Linked DNA regions of Homo sapiens: region 2 is linked to region 1. Evidence: fine-mapped expression QTL. A gene starts in region 1. The other region holds a variant in brackets. All regions are shown on one strand. Distances are between the middles of the regions.

Region 1 (8,350 bases):
GTAACCATCAAAATGGAACTCATATTAATTTTCTTTGTCTACTCAATTTCCAGTAATTCCTTACTGCAATGACTTAAAATACTTTGTTGTCAATGTTAGCAACCTATTTTCAGTAGACCCTTCCTTTTGCAAAAAAAAAAAAAAAAAAAAAGTATTGGTGTTAAGTAAAAGCTATTATAGATCACTAGTACTCAAAATGTTTACTCTCATAACTTACTACTGATAATTACCATTTATAGAGAATATATCTCTGAAGGTAAAAAGTTACTGTCCAGGAAATTTTCCATGAGACAAACAATTGCCATCATTTACTTCCCAAACTCTTTTCCTTAAGAAAAATACGTCCCTTTAAAAATGTTTTTCTTGGTTGCATAGCAATGTGAATGCACTTAACATTATTGAACCATATACTTTAAAAAAAGGTTAAGATGGTAAATTTTATGTTATGTGAATTTTACCACAATTTAAAAAGCTTTTATAGATTAGGAATTGGAAAATGTGACACATGTACTACATAAGTCCCAAAGCCTGTTTTCAGTTGCATAGGGCTTGGTACCAGTTACCCTCAACTTATTTGAACAGTGACCAAATACTGCACTTAGTTCAAAAGACTTTGAAAATTAATTAACAACTCACTGAAAAGGTAGTTCATTTCATATTCTGTTATCCCTTCCTGAAGATAATCATAATCTTGGTTCCGAACTATAAAGCGATTTTTGTTACATATCTAAATAATAGCCTCCTCTTTCCCTGTATTTATGATTCAAAACCATGGCAGCAAGCATAGGAGATAACAGGTGGGAAATGGCAGCCACAGCATAAATCCTACAGGAAATAGAAACTAAAACTAGGCTTTACGTAACTGAACACAAACGAACTGCAATTAAACAGTAATATTTTATGCTTATAAGGTGTTAGAAAACAAAAAGGATAAACAGTAACAGTCAATCAGCTAATGCATAGCATCGAAATAGCGAAGCTTTATGTCAACAGTCTATTTTTATTTACCATTTGCTTTTGGACAAAGGTATGGTTTTAAAAAACATGCAGTCTTCTTTCATCATAGGGCAACTCCCCAATTATTTTTGCTATAGTAGCCCATAAATGGAAATAAAATACCCACGCATTCACATAATGCCTGCATCCTACTGTTAGTAACGCTTCAGTGTCTGTAGGTATCCTCCACAGTTCATAGATGCAAACTGCTAAATTACATTACCTGTCTCAGGTCATATTCTTGAAGGTGATCAAAAAGCATTTGAAATAATCATTTATAAAAGTCTATCAAAGATTACACTATTATCGAGGTATTAACAGTAAACCATTAGTCAAGTAAAAAGGTGGGCTTCTGTTAGATGACAGCACTGCCCCATGTGCGTGCACATACCATGCACATACCTGAACTATGCTAATGATTTTCACTTCATGTTAAATAAGTATAAGCATGTTAAGCTTGTATATTTTTTCACCCACTCATTTTGAAACCCTCTGTAGGATTTGGCTACAGTAAAATGTCAGCTTGGTTATTACCTTTAAATTAAGAAATTTCCCGGCAAAATTGGGAAGCTAGTGACAATAAAGTGAAACTGATGCTTTCCCAGTTGAGTTTCACTCTTGGTTTCTTTCAGGGCATAGACAAATTTGCCCATGTAGAAGCAATACCCTTGCTTCTGTAACATAACTGAAGAAGAGAAGAGAAAGAATAGCAAGACATTTTACTTAACAGCCTCAGCCTACCTACAGCATTTTTCCTTGTCCATGAAAAAAAAGTTGTGTGTAGGGGGGAAATAACCAGCATCAGTACAGCAGCTGTTCTTAGTTCTTGACATTACCGTGTCCCAGACTCTTTCATTCAATTGTATTTACTCCAAGGAGTTTTTGTTTGTTCTGAACCATTTTGCTGAGTATTGTTGCTGTCTTAAGAACAATGAACTCCCAGACCCACATGGTTTCATGAGTGAATTCTTTCAGATCTTCAAAGAGCAGAGTTCTTAGGCTATTTAAACTACATCAGAGCGGAGGAAGAGGAACTCTGCCCAGTTCTTTTTAGGAACCAGCATAACCTTGATACCAAAACCTAGCAAAAATAACAGAAAAAGGTGAGTATAAAATGAATCTCAATCATTGATTTTAAATAAAAATGCTACCAAAGGAACCAATATATACTTAAATATTACACCATGACCAAGCGTAAGATTGGTTCACAAACTGCAAATATACTAAAGTAATTCACTATCCTGTTAGGTCAAAGATGAAAAGTACCTATGAAAGGTTATGATAGATGTCAAAAAGCCATTTGACAAAATCCAACTTCCATTCCTGATAAAAATGTTAAGAAGTAATGAATATACACACCAAATGAACATCCAATATCTATTATTTAAAATTGTTCTCAAAGTGCTATCTAATACAATAGACACTCCCCATCCCCAGTTGCAAAAATGACTTTGGATGCAATCCAAACAGTTCTCTGCAAAAATCACAATGAGCTAGAAATATTAAAGGAAACTTCCCTGATAAATATAATTTATTAGATATTAATAGTAACTTCATATTTAATGATGACATAATAAAAACATCCCCAAACTAAGAAACAAGATAAAGGATGGCCAGAATCACTGTTTTATTTACCACTATTCTGGGGAAGCCAGCAATTCACTAAAGCAAAGAAAGAAAGAGATAAGATGAATTATAATTAGATGATTGTTTTCCTAGAAAATTCAAGTGAAACAATTTATTAAAATTAATAAATTTAGAAAGTTGGCCAGATACATAAACACTCATCTACATACCAGTCACAAAATATAAGAAAATATAATGGTTAAATCCCAAAAAGAGTATTTTAATGAAGCATGAACAGTTTATGTTAAATTTTATCTCAAAGATAATGCAATTATATTCAAGAAAATTTTGAAAAGGAAAAATGAAGAGGGACTTGTCCTATGAATTACTAGAAAACGTAATATCAAAGCAGATTGGTATTTTTAAAGGAAGAGACAAAAAGATCAAAGCAACAGATGAGTCTAAAGAAAAGATGCATGTACACTTGAGAATTTACTATATTAAGGAGGTATTTCTAGTCAGTTGGGAGAGAAATGATTTCAACAAATGATTTCAGGAAAAAATGGCTGCCTAGTCATAAAAACAAAGAAAAAAATTAAATCCTTATCTTAGCATACAAAAATCATTTTCAGATGTTTTAATGAGTAAATCATAAAAAGAGAATTAACAGGCAATATAGGAGAAGATTTTAAGAATTTTTGAGTGGGGACTACCTTCTTACCTGAGATAAAAAGCCTGGGCATTTTAAACCAAAGCATTGATAATTCTTGAAAATATTTGCCATATATTTCACAAAGGATTAATGAAATCTGTAGTCTAATGAGAAACAGATAATTTTGAAGAATACTGGGCAATATATACGGACAGGACATAGTAAGTGACAGTTAACTATAATTTGGTACATCTACACAATGCAGTACCACGCCAACATTACAATAAAATAGAGCTACATATGGCAAGACTTTCACCATATATATATATTTAATCTGAAACAGATTATCGAACAGTATGCATAATCTCATTTTCATAAGAAAGCAAAATAACATGGTTATGCACATACAGGAAAGATGTGGAAGGCTTGGATTACAACTGGGGAGAGGACTGAGAAGGATTTCACTTCCTGCTTTGCACATAGTTGTATTATTTGAGGATCCCTCCTCTCTCAAATGAGGACACAATAATTTTTAACAGAATGCACTGCTTGCTTCTCTGCTACCTCTCGTTTGGGTGTGTATTCCAACCGCGGTAAGAAGGCAGGTCATTTTCTTTTCCTTCAATTTCACGTCGCTTCTTCACTTCCTTTACTACCATCTCTCCCTTATTATAACTTGTCAAAAGCATCTCCTGTGAGGTGAGATAAACACCACTTTACATAGCAAGGCTGCTTTACTTTTGCTCGTTATAGCATAACAATAAAGGCACAGCTCTTCTTTGATTATCCTCCCCCTTTCTACTTCTAGAAAAGCACAGCTTTTTTGCCTGTAACTCGTTGCTAGTCAGTTTACACCGGCGTGAGGACTCTACCTAACGCCTGGGTTCCCACTGTGGGCGGGGTTGGCTTCTGTTCTTCCTGCCTTGGCCACCCACTCCCTCCGTGACCCTCTGGGAAGTTACCCAACTTCTCATTGACCAGGCTATGATGACACCCCACAGGAAGGCAGAGGGGAATTGTGCAACCACCTTGGGAAAACAACAGAAAGAACCAATTAAGTTTTCGAAAGAGTAACCACGATACTACTTGATTCTAGGAGGCAGTCTCTCTCCCGAAGGGAAGTCGGGAATGTTCCTGGAGGGTCCACTGCTCACCTCGACACCGCAGGCCCTTCCACCCCCATTTCCCGGGCAAAGCAGCCGGGACGAGTCCCTCCCTTGAAGCCGTTGGGGCAGAGGCCGACGATGCTATGCTGACATCGCGGGCCCGGAAACCAACCCACAAGGAGTCCGCTCCGGGGGAAGGACTCGCGTGGTTTCTCCCGCACAAAATCCCTCCCCAAACTGCAAATTGGTTGTCTCCGCTGCTCCTCGGCTTCTCTCCCTGCGGCGCCCCTACTGTCAGCGCGTCCCTCTCGCTCACGCATACAAATTCTCCGACGTCGTGCTTGACGGATTCGGACACACCAATTCACAAAGTTTCTTACTCACACAGTTCACGCTTTCAGCTGCGTTCCCTCTCCCCTCAGGTCGCCGGCGCCTGGCCGAGTGACTCCAACCGGAAGTTGCATTTTGTTCCAGTTCAGAGGGCAGTGCCTGCGCGCGGAGCCATTAACTCTTCACCTCCACCCAACAAGGCCAGGGCCCTTCCGCCCTGCCCCACCCAGCCCAGGGCTCTTCTGCCCCGCCCCTGCCCGCCCCGCCTAGCGCCCTCCCCCAGCCCTGCCCAGCCAAGTCCCCGCCTCTTAGAAAAAAAAAGCGTCAGCAGCGGAAGAGAATCCTATGTCAAGTGTAAAGGTCACTTGTGAGTCTTTGCTGGATTTTTTTGCCAAACGATAAATAACCGGTAAATAAATAACCAGTAAATAAATAACATCACCCTATATATGAGTTAGAGTACACAAGAATCACCTGAGAAACAAAATGTAGTTTCACCAACCGACTCCTACAGCTTTCATTTCAGAGCAACTGGAGTGAAGCCCAGGAACCTGCATTTTCAACAGATCCTCGTAAATTTATGTAATTAAACGTGGTTAAAGTCCACACTCTGAGAAACACTACATATACACATACCCATTTGGTTTCTCCCCAACTGGTAGTATTTTTCACTAAATGTATTTGTTAAAGAGGAATGGCTGGAAATGGAGGTGGAACTTTATTAGAAAATTTCCCATGAATTAAGACTTTCCCATTATTCCAATTCCTAGCCATGCATGAATATTATCTAAGATTCATATCTTAGATACCGCAAGAAAGATATCTTTTCCCTTTAGGGCAAGAGGATGAGGTCTGGCTGCCCCAATTTCTCCCTGTATTTCTGAATCATGGATGTTTACACATCTTTCCTTAGGCCAGTAAGTCCAAGGATTTAAAAACCTGCCAAGTTGCAGTGCATTCTGTCTAGTTATCTTGAATGTTGCTGTATACTTTTAAAAGTCAAAGCCTAAATATATTTGAAACAATGTTTTTAACAAACAGAAACTTCTTATATATAACGTTTTGACCAGTTGAATAGTTTTCTTGTAATAAGTAATTGAGTTAAACATCACAATACAGTACTGCTTTAAAAAAATTATTTAAACTTTTTTTGAGGGCAGTTTTAGATTCACAGCAAAATGGAAAGGAATGTCCAGAGATTTTCCATATACTTTCTGCCCCGACACAAGCATAGCCCTTCCCCATTATCAACATCCCTCACCCCAGTGTGATGAAAAAAAGCTGTTATAAATATCTGTGTGCAGGTTTTTTTGTGCGGACATAAGTTTTCATCTCCTTTGGATAAATACCAAGTAGTATGATTGCTGGATCATAAGGTAAGAGAATGTTTAGTTTTGTAAGCAATTGCCAAATTGTCTTCCAAAGTGGCTACCATTTTGCATTCCCACCAGGAATGAATAAGAGTTCCTGTTGCTCCAAATCCTTGCCAGCATTTGGTGTTGTAAGTGTTCTGGATTTTGGCCATTCTAATAGATGTGTGTCATATTTTATTGTTGTTTTAATTTGCATTTCCCTGATGACATATGACGTGGAGGATCTTTTCATATGGCTATTTATTTACCATCTGGTTAACTTCTTTGGGGAGGTAAAGGCCTTTGGCCCATTTTTTAATCAGGTTGTTTTCCAAATGTTGAGTTTTAAGTGTTCTTTGTATTTTTGATAAGTCCTTTATCAGATATGTCTTTTGCAAAAAATTTTCTCCTTGTCTGTGGCTTGTCTTTTTACTCTCTTGACAATATCTATTGCAAAGCAGAAATTCTTAATTTTGATGAAGTCCAGTTTATTCAGCACTGCTTGAGCAAATTAAATAAGCTGATTTGAAGATTTCTGATTGAAATAGTGGAATTTAGTAATATACTCAGAGTCTAAAGCTGAATGCATAGGCATTTTGAAATATGGAGGTGCTAAAAACTTTGAATAAGGAAATAGCTAGATATACACATTTCTTAAATGCGTATTTTTCTCTTTCCACTTCCATGATGTTGTAGTCTTGAAGAGAAGTGGCTGCATAATTCCCCTGTATGTGAAATATGCATAAATGCTGGTAGAATTATTTTGTAATCAATGCTAAAATGGCATCAAACATTTTCCTTTTCCTATAATGATGATTTTTTAAGAATTCACATACAGTATGTTTTACAAAGGTTAGAAATTGAGTTGACATTTATTTGAGGAATAATCTTTTAAAATAATGACATAATTTTATTCCAATTTTCCTTCACTCATATTATTATATACCTCAAGTTAGTGAGCAGTGATGTGGCTTTGGAGGTTGGGTATGGTGGCATGAAAATGGGGAACTGACCAGGTGTGGTGCTCACACATATAATCCTAACACTTTGGGAGGCCAAGGGCAGAGGATCACTTGAGCACAGGAGTTTCAGACCAGCCTGGGCAACATAGTGAGACCACGTCTCTATTTAATAATATTAATTAATGAATTATTATTAAAAGAAAATGAGGGAATTGCAGGCCTTTAAAAGATATTTTGGAACCTGGACGGGTGCAGTGGCTCACGCCTGTAATCCCAGCACTTCGGGAGGCCAAGGCGGGCTGATCACTTGAGGTCAGGAGTTTGAGACCAGCCTGGCCAACATGGTGAAAACCCGTTTCTGCTGAAAATACAAAAATTAGCCAGGTTTGGTGGTGCACACCTGTAATCCCAGCTATATGGGAGGCTGAGGCAGGAGGATCACTTGAACCCGGAAGGCAGAAATTTCAGTGAGCCAAGATCACGCCACTGCACTCCAGCCTGGGCAACAGAGAGAGACTCTGTCTCAAAAATATTTTGAATCCTAGTTTTAAAACTGCTTAATAATTTATTGAGACTTCTGAATATAAACCTAAGGACAAGGAAACCTGGCAATATAAACAGTTACTATGACTTGGAATGTCAGTTATGTTCTCAGTCAAATCTTTGATGTGCAATATCACTATTAATGGAATCTGGTTGACTTCTGATTTACGATGACATCTGGACTGGCTGATTATATTGCAGACTCTCCAACTAAAATGGCTATGAAAAATCAGAAAAACATGAGAACTCACAATGGCCTTGGAAGGCAGACTGACAACCAGGGCCACTGTGTATGGTTGAGCAGGCTGTGCTCAGTTGCAAAGCCTTGCCTCCTTCAGCCTGTGTCTTCTCAGAGAGGTGCTTTTTCTAACTCACAGAAAAGTACCATAAGAGCAGCTATAACCCTGTTGACAAGCACCCTAGTTCCAGAATTTGATAGGATACTGGACTTATTGCAAGAACTGTGAAGCTGAAATGGACATGTACTTTTTTGTTGGAAGGCAATCAAAGGTGTTGGTATGGAAGGATAGTAAGGAAGCTACCTGCCTCACGGCCCCTACTAGTAATTCCACTACTATGTGTGATGGCTAAGAAGTATTTTACACCTCTTTGCCCTAATCTCTCCCATTAGTTTCTCCACTCTATGACCCATTTTGGAGCTACGGCCTAGAGAATACCAGCAATAACCCAAAGGGAGTGGATAGGTGTAATGCTCTGTGTCCAAGCTTAGGAAACTAATAATGAAAGGGGTTGGGCAGACAGAACTGGGTGTTTGTTTCTCTGGGGGTTTACTTTTTCATATATGGTTCTTATCAAGAAAAAGACAAATCATTGTTTCTGATT
Region 2 (8,350 bases), 34 kb after region 1:
AGCATAATTGAAGATGGCAGGAGGATGGGAAGGGAAAAGGAGGGTGATGCAGAAGAGGTGCTGATATGATTGGCTTTGTGTCCCCATAATCCCCACGTGTCAAGGAAGAGACCAGATGGAGGTAGTTGAATCATGGTGGGTGGGGGTTTCCCCCATGCTGTTCTCGTGATAGTCAGTTCTCACGAGATCTAATGGTTTTATAAGGGACTCTTCCCTCTTCGCTTGGCACGCCACCTTCCTGCCCCCTGGCGAAGAAGGCGCTTTGTTTTCCCCTTCACCTTCTACCATGACTGTACATTTTATGAGGCTTCCCCAACCATACTGAACCGTAAGTCAATTAAACCTCTTTCCTTTATAAATTACCCAGTCTTGGGCAGTTGTTCATGCAGTACGCAAACGGACTAACACAGGTGCTCTTGTTGAGAAGTGGAGGAGCAAATTAGACATGCTGTCTCTTTTCAAATGCCAATTTAGAAAAATAGGGCAACCTGGGAGCAGATTCAATACAATTAGTCAAGGAAGATGATAATGCACATTTGTTTCTGCAGTTTTACTCATCCTTCCATTTTTCCTTTCTAATCTGTTATGTATAGCTTAATATGTCTCATAAAAAATACATGATACTTTCTACAGGGTACAAGGTGAACTATTTAAGTTTCCATAAAAAGTCTCTGTAAGCTGACAGAATTTAATCAGAAAATGAGACATCTCACCATTGAAGAATTTGTTTTAGATATTATACATTCTACTTTCTGTTTTATTGGCCAAGATAGCAATACATTTAGTTTATTACCAATTAACCTTTCTATTTTGATCTATGCACTGGGATTTCTCTTTTCTAAAGTTGATGAGAAACACCAGCCAAAAGAATGAGCCTCACAGGCATTTTCTTTCTAAACTGAGAAACCTAGAAAAGTGGTTTTGATATTAGGATAAAATAGAAATTACTGAACTCCCCTCAAAGAGGTAAGGAATATATAAATTGTAGAAAACAAATTTGCATTACCTGAAATATATTTCTTTTGGAATTATAAATTCATGAAATTGAAATTGCTATGAGATGCCTGTCATCAATAATTTTCTATGTGAGAACACAGTAATTTAGTACTGATACAATTACTAATATTAGTAGGATTAATAATAATAGTTCATACTTGTAATTATCTATAAATGAGAAAGATAAAAAATGTCAGCCTGTCTGTAACCTCTAAGACACAATGGTGGTGAGAAAGAAATCAAAGAGGAGAAGAGAATAGAGGGAGAGATGGAAAGAATAATCCATAAACTCTGGGTTTTTCTATTACTTCAATAAAATAAGTCAAATTCTCAATGAGATCTGACCTTTGAAAACTGTTTAGCATGACTCCAGGGGGATGTTGGGAGGATTAACTAGCTGAAGCTTGCAGAGAGATTTCAAAGTTCCTTGTGTGTTATTTATTCCTTGCTTTACCAGTTCAGTTCCTTTTTAATTTGATCATATTTGGTGGGATGCCAGAGCCATGATAAAATATCCAATAAACACGGGTTTCAAGTAAAATCACAAGCTATTGTTTGAGGAGGAAAGATTGAGGTAGTTCTAAAAGTGTAGAGGTAATTCTGTGCGTAGACATGCTATTTTTAAAAGATTTTTTTAAGTTAAATCACTTCAAAGAGCAGGAAACGGACCCAAAGAGATTAATTGATTTTCTAAATATCAAACAGCTGACTCATAATTTTGACAGTTTTTCACTGGCATTAGAGATCCTGGCTTCAAAGTACTTGATCACCTTTGGCATTATAATTTGAAGATGCTGTTATGGTTTGGAAGCTGAGTGGGATGGAATTGGTGAACTTTTTCTAATTATTCAATTGGTGAAAGAACTGTGTGTTTTATTCTTCTCTTATCATTGGGTTTCAGATTTTAAAATATTGTTTGGATGGAAAAAAACTTTGTAGAAACACCTCTTTCTCATGTCTCATTTATTTATTCTTTAACCCTTCATTCATCAATTGCAATATGCTGATCAGCTCTTGGGAGAGGGAGCCATAGAACCAAGCCCAGCGGCACTTTCTGGAGCACGTCAGAAGTAACATCCATCTCTCTGCAGAGGAGTTAGGCAAATAGGTGCTGGAGCCATAATGCCTACATTCCAAATCCTGACTTCACCTTTGACAAATGTCTTGCCTAAAACTTATGGTAGTTTTGAGAATTGAATGAATTAGTATGTGTAAAGGATTTAAAACCCTGAGCACATGGTAAGACTATGTAAGAGAGTTTCTTTGTTGTTTTTTATTCATTGATGTATTTTTCTTCACTGTCTCTGTAAAATTAAAATGTGAATTGGCTGGGTATGGTTGCTCATGCCTGTAATCCCACCACTTTGGGAGGTCGAGGTAGGTGGATCACCTGAGGTCAGGAGTTCGAGACCAGCCTGACCAACATGGTGAAACCCTGTCTCTACTAAAAAATACAAAAATTAGCCGAGCATGCTGGCAGGCACCTGTAATCCCAGCTACTCTGGAGGCTGAGGCAGGAGAATTGCTTGAACCCGGAGGGTGGAGGTTGCAGTGAGCCAAGATCACACCATTGCACTCCAGCCTAGGTGACAGAGCAAGACTCTGTCTCAAAAAAAAAAAAAAAAAAATTGTGAATTCATACAAGTTTTGCAGGAAAACTAGATGGCGAGAAATTAAATTATTTAAGCAAGATCATTTTTGTTTGTCTATGCAACTTCTATATTGCCTTTTCCTTTTTCCCCTTGTAGCCTATGTACTGTTTGGGAAGCAAACTCCAACCACTGTCCATGAGTAGGCTAGGACTGGCTCAAACCAGTCAGTACATTATATTTCTCCTACTTTTGTTATTGGCTGAGGGTGGAGTGCATGACACGAGCCAGTCTAACCTTGGTGAATACCAGGACTCTTGCTTGGATTACAGAGCTGAAAGTAAAAGTGAAGCACAGCCTTCATTATTTAGGCTGACAAACAGCCTAAAGCTGTAAGGGTCTTCAACTACAGAATAAAACCATCATCACGAGATGGCCAAAAAGAGAGATGGGGAAAAAATTGGTGTTTTAAAAATTTTAATTAATTTATTTACTTTGAGATGTAGTCTTGCTCTGTCACCCAGGCTGGAGGGCAGTGGCATGATCTCAGCTCACTGCAACCTCTGCCTCCTGGGTCCAAGCAATTCTCATGCCTCCACCTCCTGAGTAACTGGGATACAGTAACTGGGCACAGGCGCATGCCACTGTGCCCGGCTAATGTTTGTATTTTTAGTAGAGATGGGGTTTCACCATGTTGCCCAGGCTGGTCTTGAACTCCTGGCCTCAAATGATCCATCTACCTCGGCCTCCCAAAGTGCTGGGATTACAGGTGTGAGGCACTGTGCCTGGTCAAAACATGGGTCTTTAATAATATTGCTGAACCACTAACTCAAACAACTTTAAAGCTCCCTCTACCTCTTGACTTTTGAATTATGTAATCCCCAAGGTTCCCTCGTATTGTTTAAGCCAGTTTGAGTTGGATTTTCTGTTACTAGCAATTGAAATCTTCTTGCTGTAATACTCTATATGGTCAAAAAGGAGTCGTGAATACAACAATAACCACAACAAATAGCCTTTATGGAGATTTGCTCTACGTCAAACACTGCTCTCAGTATTAATCTTTACAACAAGCCTGTGAGACAGGTATCATGACTCTCAATCATTAGCACTCTAAGTGTGGGACTCTGCATAACATATGCAAAGTATCATGGCTGCAGATCTTGCATTTCCAACATGACCTGTTTTGGCCTATTTTGTGATTACGTGTGTGTGTGTGTGTGTGTGTGTGTGTGTGTGTGTGTGTGTG[G/TGTGG]CTTTTTGAGATGGAGGTCTCTCTATTAGTACTGATACAATTTCTAATAGCAGGATTAATAGTTCATACTTGTAATTCTCTATAAATGAGGAAGATAACAAATGTTAACCTATCTAACGTCTAAGACCCAATGACAGTGAGAAAGAAATAAGAGAGGAGAAAGGAATAGAGGGAGAGATGGAAAGGATAATCTATAAACTCTGGGCTGCTGTGCAGTGACCATTATCAAGTATGATCATAGCTTACTGCAGCCTTGAACTCCTGGACTCAAGCAATCCCCTATTTAGCCTCCTGGGTAGATGGGACTACAGGCATGCATCACTGCACCTGGCTTAGTTTGAGATAATATTTTTGCAGAGAACAGATGTATAAAGTCTAGCTAGTCAGGCTCCTTTTCCCTGCTTCCTCCAGATAATTTTTAAACTGAACACAGAACATATTCATTTGGGTACCATACTGCAGATTAACAGTTGATTAAGTCCCTTGTATATTTCAGTTTGAATTTTTAGTTTAAGGGTTTTGTTTTATTTGATTTTTTGGTTGAGGGTTTAATATGAGAAACTATCTTTCTTGGATTTGAATGCTCACTGGTTTTTTTCTATGTCATTTGTTATAGTCAGGATATTAGAGTCATTTGAAATAGACTACTCTGGCAGAAGGGCAAACTATCTTCTGGTTCTTTGCATACTTTGGGTTTTTTAAATAAGTGCTTGGAAAGTTTATTCCTTAGGAATGAAGGCCTTTTTCCCCAACCCCTCTTATACCAGTCAAGGTTCAATCAGGAGACAAAATCAGATAGTAATTAGAACAGGGAAAGTTTAGTATAAATAACTATTAACTATACCAGGTGCTGATCTATAAAGGAGTAAAGATACTCAAAAGGATATCTGGGGCTCAGGGAGGGTATCTAAAGAAGGAACAAATGTGGGAAAGAGAACCTCTTTCCTAAGGCCGGAATTCAGACCACAGTGGAAAAGGTGTGGTTGTAGACCAGGAGATTCCAGAGAAGTGTGCTTGGTTGCCCAGGCCAGAACTGGTCCACAGATGCTGGGCAATGAGTAAACCACCCCTCCAAAGTGCACGTGGGCCAAGGCTGGGAAGCTGACTTTCGGGACACCTGTGAGATTCATCGGGAAGCTGTCAATAGGAATGCCACTGCAACTCGATGAGGAGCCATCAGTATGTATGCCACTGCAACTTGATGGGGTGTCACTAGAGCAACCTTACATGCACAGTTGGTAGCCATGAGATAGGAACAAGAAGAAAATAGAAAACACCAGAACCAGGAAGAGGAGCCCTATTCCTCTTGTAGTGTTTCTCCACCTCCGTATACAGACAAAGCTTGACACTGTTGTCACTGCAAAGAAGAAATATTTCAACATTCCAGCTTCATTTTTGCCAAGCAGCCAATAAAAGGTGGCTTTGAAGCTGGGATGCAATACATACTTAGCTGGCACACTTTTGAATGCAGGGGATAAGTTTTCATTATACCCTGTTATGTCAACATTCAGCAGTAGCTTTGTTTAAGTATATTACTTACATTATATGAAGGTCAGTGAAGCAGATGTTAACTATAAAATGTCTTTACAGGTGTAGTCCCCACCAACATCTTGGGGCTCCTCAAATCTTCCTTGAATGATGTCTGAAATAGGTTAGATCTTTATTTGTAATATAATGCTTTGACCCCAGTTAAAATATAACTACCTCATGAATGAGAACTATTATACTGTTATTGGCTATTAAACTTTAAGATGATTGAAGGTGATAAATTACCCCAAGAGGCTGAGGAGAGGACTTTAACTGACTCCCTGTATTTTAATCAACATTCTCTCTTGAAACTTTCGACAAATAGTATCAAACCATCTTAATGAGCTCTCAGAGTATTCTCTTATTTTCTATCCACTGAAACATGGTAAAACCCTGAATATGCTCTTGTCTGAACATATGTTTATGTTAATGAGGAAAGTTTACTTTATGTAGGAAGAAAAATTGTTTCTATTTCTGACATGATAAGATGTAGGAACAGGCTACAAACTTCAGACTTTATGTGAAAGAACATTTGAAGATAATGAAAGTTTATTTCCTCTTCTTGAAAGATGTTAAAACTTTATAAAAGACACAGAATTCTAAATTGACTTTTTAGGTTAATTTAAAATTTGTTAGGGGTATGGTTCAGAAAGTTTGTGCAGCTATAAGATATAGAGCACTTAAACTTATAAGTAGCAGAATTTTTTTCCCCTTCCATTAACCAGTTTATTTGATGTGCTATCTGCTAGAGCTGCCATAACAAAATGCCACTGATCAGCGGGCCTAAACAACAGAAATTTATTTTCTCACAGTTCTAGAGGCTGGAGGTTCAAAATTAAATTGCTGGCAAGGTTGATTCCCTCTAAAGGCCTTGAGGAACAAACCCATTCCAGGCCTGTCTCCTTGGCCTGCAGTTAGCTATTCTCTTCTTCTCCTTCACAGGGTGGTTCCCCTGTACAGGCAGGTCCCTTGTGACTGTGTGTGGCTAAATTTCCTCTTATAAGCACACCAGTCTGATTAGATTATAGCCTATCCTAGTGGCCCCATTTTAACTTGATCATCTCTTTAAAAGTTCTATCTCCCAAAACATTTTCTGAGGTTAGGGGGGTTAGGGCTTGAACACACGAATTTGGTGGGACTCACTTTAGCCCATAGCATTGGATGAACTAAGCATGATATATGCAGAAAGCACTTAATTTCTTTTCTCACCACTGCCTTTTATCTGTGCTATTTGAATTTCTAGATCAGCTGTTTGGGTGGCTTCTTAAATTCATAATGTGTGTTCTTAATCTTCTCTGTTCTAGGGTTTCTGATGAAAATCAGAAGCAACAGAAAAAAGCCTGTATATACTGCTATATGCATCAGTAATTTTACTACTGAGACAATTTAAACTCAAAGTTTAGATTCAGGTTATATCTATAGACAGAACAAGAAGGTTTGATTTGTGGACTTGTTTTCTCAAACTATTGCTTCAGTCAATGTGGTTGGACCAGTTTGGTGTGTAGAATTAGTCTCAGAGACATTCATCATTCTTTCAGGGTGGCTCCCAGACAGGCGAGTGGATAGACTGGGTAAATGGGAGTAATTTTGTAGGTAGGGCTGACAAAGATTTCCAAGAGATCTACTTAAGGTCTCTTAGGCCTTCTTTCCCAGGAAGCCTGAATCAAGGGGCTTCACTTAGCATCCATCTATCTCTGGTCTGTGTTCCCGATCCTCAAATAATGACCTAATTCTGTTCTACCATTTTCCTAATTTTGGCATGTCCACCAGACTCAAACAGCCTGTGTTCCTGTGATATTTCTGCTTTACTCCTGATTTCAATTATGTTTCCAATCCTGGATTTACAATCTGGGCTTGATTCCTGCTACTCCCTTGCTTGAGTTCTGTTGTCTGTGGCCTTGAATTGCTTGACTATGAATCATTCCATTTCATGACTCAGCAGGAAGCACCCTGCCACTGCTTTCACAGCTTGCCTACTCGTAAAGATTTCAGAAGTTTTTATTTCTCTAATTTCAAAAGCATTTTCTTTGGTTTCTTCTTTATTGTCATTGAAGCCAGTTTCAAAGCATAGGAAAACAGAGTTTTGCCTTCTCTACAAATCCAACACAACTTCTTAAAAGTGATTACAGAATTAAATCCTGACAGCGACTCAGGAACTTGTTTCTTTTCTGGATACTTATCCTGTGTGGGCTGCTCATAAATGCAGCCCATACCATGTAAAGTAATCAGTGGCAACTTGGTGGGAATCAAACATTCATATTCTGGAAAAACTGATAAAACAAAGTTCTCTTGTTTAGGGCTGGCATTTCCTCAATACAGAGGAAAGAGGATTGTCATAACTAGGATATCATAGAACCTATCAATATGGACCAACAGGTAGGAGAAGGAAGCTGGGATGGGGCAAATAGAAATCAGCCTTCTAGGAACAGCTCGTGTCTACTGCAGAGAGCATGGAAAGGATGATAAACCTGGAAGTGGTTTAGGTTGGTACTGATTTTCAAACCAGATTCATTCCCTGCACAAAGACCCTAGTCTTAGTTATTGATGAAGAAAATATTACTTGCTATCAAAAGTTCCTCCTGTTACTTAAGCCTACAGTAGTACCTAAAGTGGAGTGTATGGACTATTGTTTATGATGAAGTTTTTATCAGACTAGGTGAAATGAGAAGGATAAGGCTAGTGTAGTGATTTTTCCTATAAAGCTAAATTTATTCACTTTTAAGGAACTGCTTTTTATTATGAGATTAGTTCCCTCCTAGTTATGTTTTGGTATTAACATGTGCTTTTAAAAAATAAAACAACACTGTTAATGGATGGTAGTTATTTGTTTTTATATCTTTGCTTAGCTAATTAAAGATTAGCAATCTTATATCAGTCCCCAAATTGTTTTTGAAAATATTACCTAGTTCATAAAATCCAAATATTTTGGAAGTTCTGATTGAAGCCACACACTATCCGGCGATATAACAATGGGGAAAGGAAAAGGAAACCT

Evidence for each region.
Region 2: its variant is fine-mapped to the expression of TANK in whole blood (INTERVAL, PIP 0.97).

Annotation. Positions count from the first base shown.
Region 1 is chr2:161,156,841-161,165,190 of GRCh38, reverse strand. It overlaps TANK (TRAF family member associated NFKB activator), which reads right to left and starts at 4,763. Exons shown (of 8, transcript NM_001199135.3): 1 at 4,705-4,763. It overlaps TANK-AS1 (TANK antisense RNA 1), which reads left to right and starts at 4,901. Exons shown (of 3, transcript NR_187173.1): 1 at 4,901-5,059; 2 at 5,955-6,026. RefSeq lists enhancers at 700-869, 4,290-5,053.
Region 2 is chr2:161,122,359-161,130,708 of GRCh38, reverse strand. All of the region lies in intron 2 of TANK-AS1 (TANK antisense RNA 1), which reads left to right. Among named protein-coding and RNA genes, the nearest start is that of TANK-AS1, 34 kb to the left of the region's middle. The variant G/TGTGG (reference allele first, on the strand shown) is at 3,832.